Linked DNA regions of Homo sapiens: region 1 is linked to region 2. Evidence: fine-mapped expression QTL. Tissue or cell type: spinal cord. Region 2 holds a variant in brackets; the other region holds the start of a gene. All regions are shown on one strand. Distances are between the middles of the regions.

Region 1 (8,000 bases), 620 kb after region 2:
ATTTACAAACGAAGGAACCAAAGGCTCAGAAGAGTAAAATCGATTCCCCCAAGTGCCACAGATCATAGATGGTGGGGTCTCACAATTCCCAGCACAGTCAATACATATTTTTCAATTGGTATTTCTGTCTGTTTCCAATAAGCCTGAGAACTTGGAGCTAGACACCAAATATTCAAAGGGTTACATGGTCTGGGACTATTTCGGTGGGAGTAGGGGCAGTAAGAAGGTGCCGTTTCCTCGCAGCATTTTTAAGGACGCTGAAGAACTGGGGGAAAGCTGGGTTTGTCTCGGGCCACTTGGTGACTGCACTGTGAGGAAAAGCTTGCCTATAGCAACACAGAGGCCAGCAGGGAAACCTCTCCAAGCCCAGGACCCTGAGCCTTCCCTTTCTCCCTAGGCCAGGTTAGGCCAGAGCTGTGGCTTCCCTAACCACTGCCCTACACATACCAAACACTTTCCCACCTTCAGGCCTCAGTTTCCTCACCCTTCAAATGAGTGGGATACATCCCACCACAACAGCCTCACTGGGAGGCTATGAAGAAAAGTTGTGAAACCTCTTGGAAAAAAGCTTCACCAGAGAGACCAGCTTAAGGTACAAAGAAAGAGGCTCTTCCTCCCATCCCTTTATTCTCCTCTGCCCTTTCCAAATGGAATCCTGACTTAAAGATCTTTTATTTTGGACATGTTTGGGGGCGTGCGTAAAAATAACTGGGGTTAGGGGGAATGGAAGTAGGAAGATCGTACACAAAGCCCCCAGGTGAAAGGTCTCACCATAGCGTGGAACAAAGATTATGTTCGGGAGAGCTGTTTGCTAGGTCTGCAGAGAACTCGATCTTCAGAGGACAGCCATGATTTTTTTAAACACAGAACGTTGCAGGAGGGTATCTATTTAAGGGAGGATTGTGTATGGAGCGGGGCAAGCCAGGGAGCTCCCGGCAGCAAACATTACTCATGTCTCGCTGCGCAGCGCTCCTCTCTGGTAAAAGAGACCTCATATGTGTGTATTCCAGCAATAACACTCAGCAGGCATTTCCCGCCCCTCCCCACTGTATCTGTCCTTCTAAAATATTATCTCTATCCCTTGAAAAAGAGGCTGGCATCTAAAACAAGGAGATGAGAAGTAGTTCTCTCTTACAAAGTCAAGTGTTTTCTTCAAAAAAGAAAAAAACTACTTATGTTTATTTCATTTTACTAATCCCTGAACCAGGGAGTTGGGTGTTTTTGATCCACAAGGAGCTCTCAACTCTAAAAGTAGGCTGCCTACCCCTTCCGAGTTGTGAGGCTGATGCTAGGAAGTGATGCCTATAACCGTAAAACCCAAACTGTTTTTGTCTTCCTTGAGAATCATCTGGAATGAGAACCAAGAGGTTCCAAATGCAGATATAGTCAAACCCCAAAGCCTTGGTTTCCCCTAAGGGAAAAAAAAAGGGGGGAGGACGAGGACACAGCATCTTAACAATTTCTCCAATTCCTGGTTAATTATCTGTCAGCACGAAACTCATAAATAATGACTCAATAATAATTAACTGTGATGAGAAGAGCATGTTCCTGAAAATCCCAGCACCATCTCCGACTTTGAGCCCATAAGCCATACTGGGACCCCCACCTTCCCGTGGCCAGCTTCACTGGGGGACGAAGGGACTTGCCAAGGAGCTTGTGACCCAAGACTAGGCTGCCGAAGCACCAAGTACAGAAAAGCCATGTTTAAGTTAGGACGTGACTAGGCTGGATTGCTGATGCAGAAAATTTTCCATCAGGAATCCAGAAATCATCTGGTTTAATTAATTCCTCACTTGACAGATGGGGAAACTGAGGTCCCAAAAGGAGAGGGGTCTTGCTAAAGGCCTCTGGGTTTTGTCAGCTGAGGAGATTGAAATACTTCAAACTATGCCTTGAGCTGCTCAGAAACAGATACCAATATATGCGTTGCTATTCGCCCTCATGTATAATAAAATTTTGACAAGTTTCTATGCAAGCTTTATCAGAAACACACAGAAGCAAAATTATGTAAGCTGAGAGCTTTCTATAAACACATTTCCCCAAACGGGGCTAATTGAATTTAAATTAGATGCTTCGCAAAGCAGGCATACTTTCACACTGACAAGCTAGTCCCAAACAATAAGAGAGAAACTGAGGAACTCCGAAGAAAGTTCCACCAAGCTCTCCCGAGCACGCGGTGGCGACGCCGGGCAGCCCGAATCTCCACAGGAGCCGCCAGGCACGTTGGCAGGGCCGAACTCACCCTTCCCGGCGGCGGCGGCCTTGGATGGACCGTAGTCTCGGGGACTGCGGGGCCGGAGGAGGTCGTGGGCGCGCGGTGGCGGCGCAGGCGGCCGGGCTAGCAGGTCCCGCGGGCCCCTGTCCCCGCAGCCGCCGCCACTCACGGTGACCCTGAAGGCCATGTGCGCGCCGAGGCTGGCGGGGCCGCGGTCGGGGCCGGGCGCACCAGGGGCCTCCTTAGGCCTCTTGTCCGAGTGTGCCTCAGCCACCTCGCAATGCATGGCGCCGGGGCGGGGCGCACGGCTGGGGGTCGCGCCGGGCTCCTGGGGAGGGGAGACAGCACAGCCAGTTAGAATGCGGAAAGCGGCCCCCGTATTGTCCCGGGGCCGAGTTTGAGCAGGTCACTGCCCCTTCGGTGGATTGCGCGTCTTTAACATAGGTTAGCACCACGACACCTAGCCCAATCAGAGGTCAAACCCACCTGATTCCACGCAAAAGCCCCCTCGCTCAGGAGCGGTTCGCCCTTCCCTGGTGTGGGGAGGACCCCAGGCCCCCGCGCCGCGGCGCATTACCGCGAAGTCCCACCCAAATCCTCCTCCACCGAAACCAGCCTCCTTTGCACGAATGGTGAAACTGAGGCCTGGAGCGGGTAAGGCGCCTGTTCCGCGTCCCCCAGTGGAACACGGAGCCGGCGGCAACGAGGATTCCCAGAGCAGGGCTCGGGCGAAGCCCCGGAGACGGCTCCGGGTAGGTCACGGGCTGCGCGCTTCGTCGACTCTCCGGGGCCGAGCTGCGCGCAGAAGCTGGGGACCCGAACCCAAAGGCCCGAGGGAAACCCCCAGAGACTCACCCGCGACCACCCGAACCTGGAAAACAGGAGTCCCAAGCTGGGCGCTGAATCCTGCGACGCGAACCCATCACGCGCAGCCGGGACACCCACATTCCTATGCGCAGCGGAGGAATCGAGCCCGTCGCGCGCGCAAACCGGCACAGTGGGCAATGCCCACGCGGCCGCCGCCACACACCCGCACACCCGCCGAGGCACGCCCGGGGACGGACACGCCACCCACACTGCCGCTGGTCAGACGCTCAGCAGCGCACAACCACACAGTCCCACGCTCTCGCCACACGCGCGTGCGATGGGGGCCGCGACAGAGCCTCCCTCAGCCCTTCCATCAGGGGCCCCCAAACTCTCCGTTCCCCTCCGCGCTCCCTGCGCCATCCCCAAGCTGCCGGGGTTCGAGCGTCGCCGGGACGCCAGCCTCGGATCTCGGGCCCCGCACACGCCCCTCCCTCGGCCGCGGGCCGCGCCCCCTCTCACCTCGCAGCGGCAGCTGCAGATCGCTGGGCGCCCGGCTCGGCGCGCCTCCACTGGCGCAGCAGCCCCCGCAGCCGCCGCAGCCGCCGCCGCCGCCGCCGCGTCCTGCGGGGCGGTTCCCCGGGGGACGGGGGCGGGCCCGCGTCTGCCCAACAGCCGCTCCAGCCACTGGCTGGCCGCGGCCGCCCGGCTCAGGCCAATCGCGGCGCGAGGGCGGGGCATCCCCCCCTGGGGGTCTGGGCGGGGCCCGACGCGGGGCTGAGCAGAGGGTTTGACAGGCGGCGGCCGGCTGGATCCCCGCGCTGCCCGCTGTTCTCAGACGGCCGAGCCGGGCAGGACGGCGGGGCGGCGCCGCGGCGAGAGAGGCTGGGCTCGGGGGTCGGCGGAGTGCGCTGGGCGTGAGGAGTGCCGGGCTGAACCCGGCTCCCTGCCCGCCTCTCCACTAGCCCCGGGCAGGATCCTCCCTTCTCCCGGTCGGTTTTCCCCTCCGTCAGATGGGAACGACGCTGTCTGCTAACGCGAAGCGGACAGATGCGAAAGTGCTTGAAAAGTTTTCTTGCAGAATCCAACCCTCTCACTGGAGAATTTGCAGAGATTTCACAGCTAGTGGGCAGCAAATTTGGGACCCAAACCCAGGCCTCTCAGCCCACTTTCTTACGTTTGTTTTTGTGTTTTCCGCCGGAAAGAGTCCAGGGTAAAAGGTCTCAAACTCTGAAGTTAAAGATAAAAAAATGGTGCCTGATCCCAACTAGGAAATATTCCAATTGAGTCTTGGGGAATAGGCCCCCAGCACTTAGGCTTTTAGCGAGCTCCCAGGAGATCCTTACAGATCTGGGGATTGAGACCCACTCTAGGGGTCTACTCTGTTGTCCTGCCTTCTGGGATTCCCCCACAGACAGCACGCAGTGTCTCAGGGGGCCCTGCCCAACGTGTAGGAAGAGCACGGGACAAAGAACAGTAAGGCTTCACAGAGCCTGCAGGCAATGGCTCAGTTCCCCGCTCTGAGCCTGAGTCCTCCCGTGTAAAATGGCAGTGTTTGCCTAGGCCTGGTCTACCTGCCATGCCTACCGAAGGATCCAGCCAAGCCCTGAAATGGTTTCTGCATTTCACCTAGGCGCCTCCTGTGCACTGTTTGATGGTGGTCTGGGCTGGCTCCAAGGGGCCTGACTGGTTTCGAACTCCTTTGAAGTCTGGTCTCTTTGACCTTGGTCTCAAACTGGAAAATGTATATGGAGCCCTTCTGGACTACACAACATGTCAAGTTCATAGCACAGGACTCTGCACAGAACAACCGACCCCAAGCAGCATCCTCAGAATCCTGGAAAACCAGGATTTTAGAATTTCAAAATCATAAAATTGGATTTCCTATAATTTGTTTAAAATAGTATCTAACAATTAGAGTAATAATAGTAAGAAAGACTTTGAGGTTTTAGTTAGACCCACCCTCCATTCAGAGGAGAAAGGACGTGACTGGCCTGTGTCAATGTGGTGGAGGGTGGCAGAGCCCCGGGATCCAGGCTTCCTGACTCCTGGCAATGCTGTTCCTTCAGTACCAACCACTCTGCTGCTCACAGGGAGAGGGTGTAAATCAACCATGCCCATAACACACAGGCCAAGGGTTGCGCCTCACTCAGTGCCTGCACCCCCCACCACCACATACTCTTGTGGAGTCACAGCTGGTTCTGCTGCCAACAAGCCATGTGGCTCTAGACGAATGGTAACCTCACTCTGGACCTCAGCTTCCCCCCTCCAAAGGCATGAAGTTGGAAGATCTCTGGCCTTTCTAGTTCTGCTCTTCTCTTCAGTAAGGCCAGGATCCAAGTCCTCTGCCCTCCCTCCACCCCCCACAATGCCCCCCCCCGCCGCCCCGCTGCAAAACACACACACACACAACAAGCACTGCGCTGCACATTTAGTCGGGACTCTGAAAACGTTTGCTGAATGAGTCATTTAACCAACTGGACCTGAAAGCAAAGGCCCTCCAAATTTCCAGATGAAGAAACAGCTCTTTCCATTATTCTTTTGAGCACTTACCCTGGGCCAGCCCCTATACCTGAGCTAGGGACACAGAAACACAGAACCCGCCCCCTCCCCTTCCCCTCAGTGAGCTCACAGGTCCACCTGACCAAAATAGGTGGGTTTGTGAAGGCTGGCAAAGTGATGAGAAGTTTAATCTGCTCAATAAAACAGACCTCTTAAACACTGTAAATGGCAGAACCCCTTTGGAGATACTCAGAATCTAGTAGGTATATGCTTTTTTTTTTTTCCACAAAGGAAACACAAGAAACTGTTAACAGTGGTTAAGGGAATGGAGGACTGAGGGAAGGCCTGCACTTTTCATTTTTATACTTGTCTGAACTGATTTGTGTTTTCTAAGTATATATTATCCTCCCTCTCTCTCTCTTTTTTTTTTTTTTTTGTTTTCTTTTTCTTTTTTGAGACAGAGTCTCACTCCTCTGTCTGCCCAGGCTGGAGTCCAGTGGCACAATCCCAGCTCACGGCAACCTCTGCCTCCCAGACTCAAGTGATTCTTCTGCCTTAGCCTCCAGAGCAGCTGGGACTACAGGCGCGCACCACCATGCCTGACTAATTTTCGTATTTTTAGTAGACAAGGTTTCACCATATTGGCCAGGCTGGTCTCGAACTCCTGACCTTGTGATCCGCCCACCTTGGCCTCCCAAAGTGCTGGGATTACAGGCATGAACCACTGTGCCCGGCCCCTCCCTGTCTTTCAATAGGGGTTATTTGAGCAGTGGGATTATGTGCTGCATTTTTTTCCTTTATATTTTTGGTATTAAAATAAAACTCCTTAATATTTTAATTGTCAAAAACAAAATAAAGTGAAACACAGTAACCTGCTTCTCACTTTAGCAGGCTAGACAGTAATGTCTGCTTTTTACACTAACCCGTGTTACAACTCACACTCTCTTCTGCCCTCCCACAGTCTGTCTACTGGATATCTCTATCAGGATCCATCTGCAAAATCGAACATCATTTTTTCATCTCTGACGTTGCTCCTCACTCCTATGTCCCTAACTGGGTGAATGGCCCTATGGCCAACTCCCCCAGTTCAGAAATCTGAGTCATCCTCAGCCCCTCCTCTCCCATACTCCTATATCTGACTTGTCATAAATTTAACTAACAATCCTCCTCCTCTCCATCCTCACTACTACATTTCTTCCAAGTTCTTTTTGCCTCCATCCTCATCCTTCTCCTAATTAGTGATTTTCCACACTGGTCTCCTTATCAGTCTCTAAAGTATAGATCTGGCCGGGCACAGTGGCTCCCACTTGTAATCACAGTACTTTGGGAGGCCAAGACAGGAGGATCACTTGAGGCCAGGAATTGGAGACCAGACTGGGCAGCATAGCAAGACCTTGTCTCTACAAAAAATAAAATAAAAAATAGTCAGGCATGGTGGCCTGCACCTATACTATCAGCTAATCAAGAAGCTGAGGTGGAGGATCCCTTGAGTCTAGGAGTTTGAGACTGCAGTGAGCTATGATCATACCACCATACTCCAGGCTAAGTGACAGAGAGAGACCCTGTCTCTAAATAAATAAGTAAATAAATAAATAAATAAAAATATAGATCTGACCATGGCACTTCCCTGTTTAAATCTCATAGCTCCCAATGGCCATCTAAATAAAATCAAACCATTTTCTTACCCTGCTCCCACCCCTACCCTATGTTCCAAGCACCTTGGAATAGTTTTCATCTCCTAGAATCCGGAACATATATTCATGCCTTCATAGCTCTGTATATGATTTCTCCTATGCTAATATTTTCTCCCCTTATTCACCTTGCCTACTTCTTCCTATGAATCATTTCATACCCAGCCCAAGTGTCACCTTCCCACAAGCCTTCCCTGAATCCTCGAGGGGGCTATAGCTATTTTCTCCCTGCACACTTTCACAATCCTCTGCTTTATTCTATCTGAGAACTTATTACAGTTTTGTAACTGCCTGTGTAACAGCCTGTCTCCCCCCTCTAGAATGAGACCTCTGTGAGGTCAGGGGCAGCTTTTTGCCTTTCTATCTTCAGAACCTAGAAGAGATTCCTGCACAAAGTAGGTAAATATTTACTGAATGCTGATTGAATTATTAAAGACTCACCACTAATTCATTTGCTTGCCTACATTTCTAGCTAAGAGCTTCCCCACCCTATCAAGACGTCTCTCCTCACTGTCTTTGTTCAGGGGTGTAAGCATTCACTCAGCAAATGGTTGAGGTAAAAGTAGACATTTCTGTGTCTAAGGTGTCCTGTGTCCAGGAGATAGGAGGAAGGAGAAGGAAGAGAGGTGATCGATGTTACACTGCTTACCCTGCCTCTGTGTCTTGCAGCAAGGGAAGAATTAACATGGGGAACCTACCATGTACCATGGCTGACACTCTCCATATGTGACCTCACTTAATCCTGACAACTCTGGATAAAGAGGTTATCATCCCTATTTTACAGGTGA
Region 2 (8,000 bases):
CATTCTTCCAACAATCCAGTCCTGTGCTCCTTCCAGCCTCTCTTTCTGCTCTGCCCTCTCCCCCACGCCCCGGGGCGCAGGCCACACACATCTGTGCCTTGAGACCTCTGCACTGCTAGGCAGAGAGCCCAGGCCAGGGTGGCTGTGGGATGGTGGGGACACTGTTGGGGGAGTGAGAGATTAATTAAGGAAATGCGTGTGCTTTACTTTGTTGCCTCAAGTTTCCCATGCTTGGTGTCCTCTCAGAAGCTTCCTTCACTCTCCTGACCCCTGCCCAGCCAGGCAGGACCAAGCTTGGTCTACCTCTGAGATCTACCTGCCTCTCCCCCAGAGTGAGGAGCCCATTCTAGGACCCCCACAGCCCCTGGCTGCTCCATCAGGACGCTGCCTGTCTGTTTGTGAGAGGAGGGATGAGTCTGACTTCCCTGTGGGTCCCGAGAGGACGGCACCGCAGGCGGTTCCTGCGGGCTCCTGGACGAGCTAATGAGGAGTGAGTGAGAGCGCTGGGCTGGGGGCTGGTGACCCAGGTCCTAGTCCCAGCTCTGCCAACTGGCTGTGTGGCCTCAGGCAAGCAAGTCACTTCCCCATCTTTGGGCCTCAGGATCTCCATCTGTAAAATGGGGACATCTTGGGTTTGTGCCTGGGCCCAGGCTCCTTGTCACAGGGGGCTGTGTTGAGAGGGCTGTGGGTCTCTCTCCTCTCGGCTCCTCCCCACCCCTAGCCACCCTGGCCTGGGCTTTCTGCCTACCAGTGCAGGTCAGCCCCAGAGTACTGGCGTCCTGGAGCCCTGGAGCCCTGGAGCCCTAGAGCAACGCTTCTTGCAGCCATTGTGGGGGGTGTGGGACGGTGGGGGGTGTGGGGTGAAGTGAGATTAATTAAGGAAATGCTTGTGCTTTGCTTTGTTGACAAAAGGATTTTTCCCCAAAGCCCTTTCATTCTTTCAGATAAAGAAGTATTTGTCTGGTTTTAATCATGTAAACAAGAGCAGATAATCCCCAGCCACGCTCCTCTTATCATTAGATTCCATGCAGCAGCATCCAGCCCCAGGCTGAGCGTGAACACCGGCCCCCTCCCCCAGCGGGAGCCACCGCCTGTGAGGGCCCTGCCCTGCCTGCTCGCTGGCGCAATGGCTTACTCTTCTGGTAAGACACACTTTGAGCATCCCCTCTTGCAGGAAGCCGTCTCTGACCACCAGGCTGAGTGAAGCCTCCTTCTCTGGCTCCACAGTCCCTGTGCCTCCCACTGTCCCTGCCCCCACCTCACTGGACTGCGGACTCTTTACTGGAAGCACCTCCAGGGTTGGGCCAGGTTCTGATTGAATGCTGGGTCCGCAGTTTGGTAGCAGACTGCTGAGTGAAGGAGTGAGTGAATGAATGAATGAGTGTTTACAATCTCTGCTCATCCTCATCTGCCAGGATGCCATATGTTAGTGATGGGCTTAGGGTGGGTCTTAGACATAAATCCTGAAGGGCTCATAATGGGATTGTGCAGCCAGAGGAAATGGGGGGCTGCCCTGCAATCATCATCAAAGAGAGATTATCCCACGCAGGGCCGGTGCGTCAACCCAGGGCCAAACAGTCCTCCCACCATGACAGAACCCCCCGCAGTGGGGTCCAGCCGCCTCAGGCCACAGGGAAGCCATGTACCCGAGAGCAGGCCCTGCCTGAGGTCACACAGGACAGCAGTGCCCGGCTGGGCCAGAACTCAGGGCCAGACCCAGGCCTGTCCTCCTTCATTCACGTGCATTCAAACCTTTCGCACATGCCCACTCCGTGCCATGCCCTGTGCCCACAGGAAGAAATCAGAACCTGTCCCTGACCTCAAGGAGTTCCTAATCTGCCAGGGAATGGGGAGGGAGAAGGAAAGGACACTGGGCCACAAGTGCACTCAAATGGCCCCTGGACTATGTGGGAGCATCAGAACCGCAAGGGAAGCGGGGACAAGGAAATGCTGTCTTTGTTCAGAGAAGGGGGAATCACTTCGAGCTAGGAAAGTCAGGAAGGGCTCCCTGGAGGAGGTGGCATTTGACCTGGCTCTTGGAAATGGGAGAGGATTTGGAGATGGGGCAGACATGCGCAGCAGTGAGACAGTGGAAGGCAGAAGGGAGGCTGGAAAGTGTGAGACACCGTGCTGTTCGATGTGGCCCGAGCTCAGGTAATATCTGAGGGTTAGTGACAGATTGGTGATAGAAGGGATAGAGAAGATAGGCTGAGCTCAGGAGTAGGGTGGCCTTGTGGCACTTCAGCACAACTCAGGCAGCAGAATTTGCTGGATGTCTAGAAGGGAGAACGAAAAATTCCTTCCATTTGAGAAGATCAAAGTACACATGGTGTACTGGGAGGGTCACTGAAGTAGTACTTGTAAGATCAAAAACCTGACCTAAGAACTCACCAATGCAGATTAGATAGGAAGGGACGGTATAGCAGCCATCCGGAGTGATCGTGTCCCTGGAAGGGTGTTCCTAAATCAATGCTAAGTGGAAAAGCAAGTTACCAGATTGTTTGCATCTCTGCAGTGAGCCCTGGAACCTCCTGGGATGGTGGACTCCCTCCAGATTTGCAGTCTAGGCACATAGATGTGTCTGAGGGATTGTGTGGAGTGGGGTGCAGGTGAGGACTGGATTTCAGGAAAGGATAAAGGCCCCTCAGAAGGCCCCCCACCGGGGACGAAGAGGCCTAACACGGGGGTGGCGCCAACTCAGGGACAGATTGAGATGTGGGAGGGAGTGTAGGTTTTAGACAGAGCAAGAGGGATCCCTGACCCCACCCTGGGGCCCCCATCAGCTCTGGACAGGAGAGCACCCATGGACGAAATGGAGAGAATCCTGGGACCCAAGTCGTTCTGTGCTGGAGCCTCCCTCCCTTCCCACAAATGGCGGAAGGGAGAGGTGAGCAGCCGCGGGAACTGCTGGTGACAGCTGGCAGCACAGGCCAGCCTCCCCCGGAGTGCCAGGGCCACCGCAGGTGAGGGCGGAGGCCAAGAAGAATGGGAGCTGGGCATGCAGAGGTCGTGGCTTCCACTCAGAGCTCACAGGCACAGAAAGGAGGTGTAAGGCCCTGCCCTTTGGCTTTTTGAGGGATTCCTCCCTGCTGAGGCTCCTCAAGGTCCCAGGCTTCAAGGTCAAGCTGTTAAAGGTGACTTTTCTGAGAACTTGCAGCTGGTGCCCAGTGGTGGTGGGAGACCAGGTCGCGTGGACGGGCACGGAAACAAGCAAACTCTATAGGAAATGTAATTATTATCTTTGGGTGTTATAAGTAATTTTTGTTTTGTTTCGAATAGTCCTTCACATTCTCTATTCTTTCTAGATTGAGCCCGTCTTCTTGTGTGATGGAGATGACACCTCCTGGAGGACCCAGCAGCCTCAGAAGCCATCATCTCTCTGGGACTTTACTGTTCCCCAGACACCTGAACACCCAGCCCAGTGGATCCTTAACCTTCTGAGTGAAGCACTGTGGAGTTCCACTGCGAGCCACATTTGTAATTTAGAATTTTCTAGTGGTCACATTAAAAAGTAAAAAGAAACAGGTGAAATTAGTTTTTTGGTGAAATTAAGTTTAATACTTTATTTAACCTAGTTTATCCCAAATATTATCATTTCAATATGTCATCAATATAAAAATTTTTAGGCCAGGCACGGTGGCTCATGCCTATAATCCCAGCACTTTGGGAGGCTGAGACAGGTGGATCACCTGAGGTCAGGAGTTCGAGACCAGCCTGACCAACACGGTGAAGCCCCATCTCTACTAAAAATACAAAATTAGCCAGGTGTGGTGGCGCATGCCTGTAATCCTAGCTTCTTGGGAGGCTGAGGCAGGAGAATCGCTTGAACCTGGGAGGCAGAGGTTGCAGTGAGCTGAGGCCACGCCATTGCACTCCATCCTGAGCAACAAGAGTGAAACTCCGTTTCAAAAAAAAATTTATATTGCTTCAGGTTTTAAATTTTAAATTAAATTAAATAAAAGTTCAGTTCCTCAGTTGCACTGCCTGCTTTTGGGTCTCAGAGGCCTCCTCTGACTCGTGGCTGTTGTATTGGACAGCCCAATACAATAGTTCTGAGTTACAGATGGGGAAAATGGAGCACAGGGAGATGGAGGCAACTGGCCAGGCCCTCCAGTTGGTGAACCATAATGTCAAGATTGGAACAGGGATTTCTGATTCAGAACCTTGTGGGGTTCCCACTCCCACAGTGCCTGTCTGTGGCACAAACCTGGTTTAACTCTGGTGGTGGGGGAAAAGATCTGGTTTGGGCTATGATTTTATTTTTTATTAATTCTTTGAAACAGGGTTTCACTCTGTTGCCCAGGCTGGGGCTCAGTGGCACGATCATGGCTCACTGCAGCCTTGACCTCCTAGGCTCAAATGATTCTCTCACATCAGCCTCCCAAGTAGCTGGGACTACAGGCACTCGACACCATGCCTGGCTAATTTTTAAAAATTTTTAGTAGAGATGGGGGTATCTTGATGATGCCCAATCTGGTCTGGAACTCCTGAGCCCAAATGATCCTCCTGTCTTCACCTCCCAAAGTGCTGGGATTACAGGTGTGAGCCACCCAGCCCAGCTGACTATGATTTTAATGTGATCCAGCCCATGTAAAGCCATTTTAGTTCAATCTCGGAGTTCACAGCCTGCCCTTGGTAATGAGCCTCAGATTTGTGGTGGTGAGCTTCCCATTGTTGGAGGCATCCAGGTGGATCCTGGATGGCCACCTGTTGAGATGCTAGATGGAGGCTTCCAGATAGAGTGGGAGGTTCCATGAGGATGACTTCAAACATTCCTTCTGGCTCTGTGATTTATGGTGAGGGGAGAATAGGCAACCACCTCTCTCCCACACCACGCTTGGCTGGGTGCTCCTGGGAGCACCTGCGGTGTTTGAGGGCCCCAGGGAAGAGCCTCTGGGAGTCTGGAGGCTGGAACTCCCTCCTAAGCCATCTGGCCACCACTCAGAGCCCAGGGATTGTG[G/T]ATCAAGAGATTGCAGTGATTAGAGACATTAACCCGCAGAGGCAGTGGGAAGGCCCAGCCTGTCTCAATCTGGTAATTGCTCCACTTGCAGGGGTGGGGGAAGGGAGGCAAAGACTGCCAGGCTCCCGGTGGAAGGAGAAAAAGGCTGCTGACTGACCCTCCCCTGGTTCTCGCACCAACCCCTGAGGTGGGACTCCTGACCCCATCTCACACTGGGAGGTGCAGGGCAGCTCTGCCATTTGCCAAGCGCTGGTTACAAAGGTGAGGGATTAGAAACCACGCCCCCACGAAGTCGAAGTTGTAGTCGCACCTCCCTACAGAGAGAGCCAAGAGAGCCTGCAGGCTGCCCAGCTGCCGGATGCCCCTCCCCCAGTTTGGGGTGACTCCCCATTGCCCTCCGCAACCATCCCAGCTCCTTCCCTGCCCTGCGTCCCCTGGGGCTGGGCCGCTCTCCTCCTCGTCCACTCTGCTCCTGGAAGTACCTTTGCACTGGATGTTCCTCCCGCCTGGAACTCTCCATCCACCATCCCTTCCCCAACCCTGGCCCAATGTCCCCAACCCTGGGTCAGCTTAGACATCACTGCCTCTGGGAAGCCTTCCCTGACTGCAGCCATCTCACCCACTTCCCCAGGGCACCCTGTGCTTCCCAGTTTGTTACGGAGCACCCTGCTAGTGGGCTCAACCCGAATCCCCAGGGCCTGACCCAGCACCTGGCACAGGACGGGCTGGCACGGAGTGCCGGGAGCCCAGTCCCCGCCTTCTTCTCCTTTCCTGTCCTGTGGATGCTGCTCAGCTCTGAAGTCTCCACTCAGGCACCACCGCCCTCTGAAGGCTGCCCTGGCCCTAGGCAAGGCGAGGAAGCTCCCGTAAGCATCCCTCACTCACTGCGAGCCCTTGGGCATGTGACTGGGCCTGGGTGTGCCTCAGTTTCCACTGAGGATGAGTGCGGATGATGCCGGTTTGCTGTGAGGCCAAATCTTGGGTTGGAGTGGTACATGGCATGTGATAAGTACGCACTGCATTTCAATTGTTATAATTTCCTCTGTCTTCACTGTCTGTCTGTGACCACCTGTCCCAGCAGACTGGAACTCCTCCAAGGCAAGGCTAAGTCTAGTTTGGCTCTAGGTCCTTAAAACCCAAGGTCTGGCACAGGCCTGGGTGCAGGGTTGCTGATGTGTGTGATGCTGAACCAGGGTGACATTCTAGATCAGACGTGAAAAGGACGACTTGTGTGCCCAGGTGACTGAGCAGCCATTGAAGGTTTCCTGAGAACAGATCACCAGTACCAGCCTTGGTCCCCGGATGGGCTTAGGGGAATGCCCACGGTGTTGTGTGTCTGTGTGACATCGAGACAGTTGGCACCAGAAATCTGGGAAGAGATGGGGGCTTGGTGAAGGGACAAGGAGCTGAATGTCCTGGGCAGTAGAGAGGGTGTCTAGAGATCAGCTTCAGGACTCTGCTTTCGGCCCTCTCCTTTCTGGTCATTTTAATCAATGGCTTGGCCAAGGCCCCCGACAGCATGTGGAGCAGATTTGTAGAGGACAGGAAGCTGGGAGGAATAGCTAATGTGCTGGATGAGGGAGTTGGGAATCCAAGCAGACCCCAGCAGTCAATTCTGACACAATGAGCCTGAACACAGACATGTGTTGGGCCGCACTTGGCTTCCACAGCTTGGAGTGCACAAACACCGGGGTGGGAGGGGGAGGCTGAGCCGTGGCTGCACACGTGGGGAGGGGACTTTGGGCTTTGTTTGCTGCCAGCTGGTGAGTCACCTGGGACGCGGGGCTGCCAAAGGGCTGGTGGGCCCCCTGCCTGTGGCTTCAGAAGCCCGGGGGCTGGTGGAGGCTGCTGCAGACCTGCTTTGACTCATTGAGAAAGGGACGGGGCGGGGTGTGTGTGTCCTGTAGAGGGCAGCTGGGTAGGCAGCAGGTGATAGAGGCACGTGCCTGGTTGCGGGGAGCAGCTGGGGGGCTGGGGGGCAGGTGCTGTGTGGTCCGGAGCGGAGCAGACCTGGGAATGCTGGGGATGATGGGAAAAGCCCTAGGGCTCTCAGCTCAGCACCAGGAATAACTTTCTGGCAGAGCTGTCCTGCTCTGGCAGGAACTACCTTGAGAAGTGGTGACCTCCCAGTCACTGGAGGTGTGCAAGCAACTTGCTAAAGTCACACAATAAGTGGGTTCAAGCCCTAGTCTGCTGGCATGACAGCATCCAGTCACAACCTCCTGGCAGTGGGAGGACCTGAGGGACAGTGAGGAGCCCCAAGCCCTGCAGCCAAGTCCTTGGGCTCTGGCCTTGGCTGACCTAGCCACAGAGGCTCTCCCCAGCTGGCCCTGGGATGCAGCTGCAGGAAGTCTACCAGACAGGCCGCAGGAAGGAGGCTTCGGGGGTCTGCGGGCAAGAGGGGTCCCTTCAGTCCATCTGAGCATCATGGCTTACTCTTCTTTTCCCCTGAGCAGAAGGCAGGCCCAACAGCTGACAGCCAGTGCCATGCCCATTAGCGCCAGCTCCAAGTCATGCTTCCCAGACGGCTCTGCCAAAGCCCCACACTCAAGCCGACTCCTCCTGAGGCCTAAGGCAGCATGCCCAGACTCCCACTCAGCTAAAGTCTGGGCCATCTCGTCTCAGCACACCCTCCCAAGGGCAGAAATTCCTCCACCACCTCTGCTTGCATATCTCAGAGGACAGAGCACTCACTACCTTCTGAGTCAGCCCCTCCACTAAGAGCTCGTGATGCTTATTAGGAAGTCCTTCCTGGTGTCACAATGAAATCCGCCTCCGGGGAAGAGCATTGGGCCACACTGGGCCCAGCCAGCCCTCTGGAGCCACATGGACCAAACCTCTTGGCCTCCACCTTGATTTCCATGGAGGGAAGGTGGGAGAGAGTGTGGGGCTCAGAGTGTGGGCGGTGGGTGCTGCTACCCTGGCATGCCCTGCTGCCCTCTGAAGGTCCCTCCTTCCCAGGCCTGGGTGCCAAGAGGGCGCTCCACTGGGACCTGTGAGAATGATAAGCTTGAACTGGATCAAAAGCAGAAGCTGGAGG

Alleles and levels. Alleles are on the strand shown, and positions count from the first base shown. SD is a standard deviation of normalised expression in the study named.
For the expression in spinal cord of the gene that starts at base 3,601 in region 1, G is the low allele of the variant in region 2 and T is the other (moderate effect, 0.43 SD a copy in GTEx).

Evidence for each region. PIP is the estimated chance that this variant, and not a neighbour inherited with it, causes the effect.
Region 1: it holds the start of GLIS1, and the variant in region 2 is fine-mapped to the expression of GLIS1 in spinal cord (GTEx, PIP above 0.99).

The regions. Positions count from the first base shown.
Region 1 is chr1:53,735,564-53,743,563 of GRCh38, forward strand. It overlaps GLIS1 (GLIS family zinc finger 1), which reads right to left and starts at 3,601. Exons shown (of 11, transcript NM_001367484.1): 1 at 3,542-3,601; 2 at 2,243-2,543. The coding sequence starts at 2,501. RefSeq lists an enhancer at 3,017-3,735 and silencers at 3,421-3,590, 3,601-3,950.
Region 2 is chr1:53,115,091-53,123,090 of GRCh38, forward strand. The region is part of intron 2 of SLC1A7 (solute carrier family 1 member 7); the gene reads right to left. LOC105379783 (a long non-coding RNA gene) reads left to right here. Exons shown (of 4, transcript XR_007066089.1): 2 at 222-490; 3 at 1,021-1,142; 4 at 3,306-3,531. Among named protein-coding and RNA genes, the nearest start is that of SLC1A7, 24 kb to the right of the region's middle. RefSeq lists enhancers at 90-1,072, 5,516-8,000, 6,830-7,629. The variant G/T (reference allele first, on the strand shown) is at 4,961.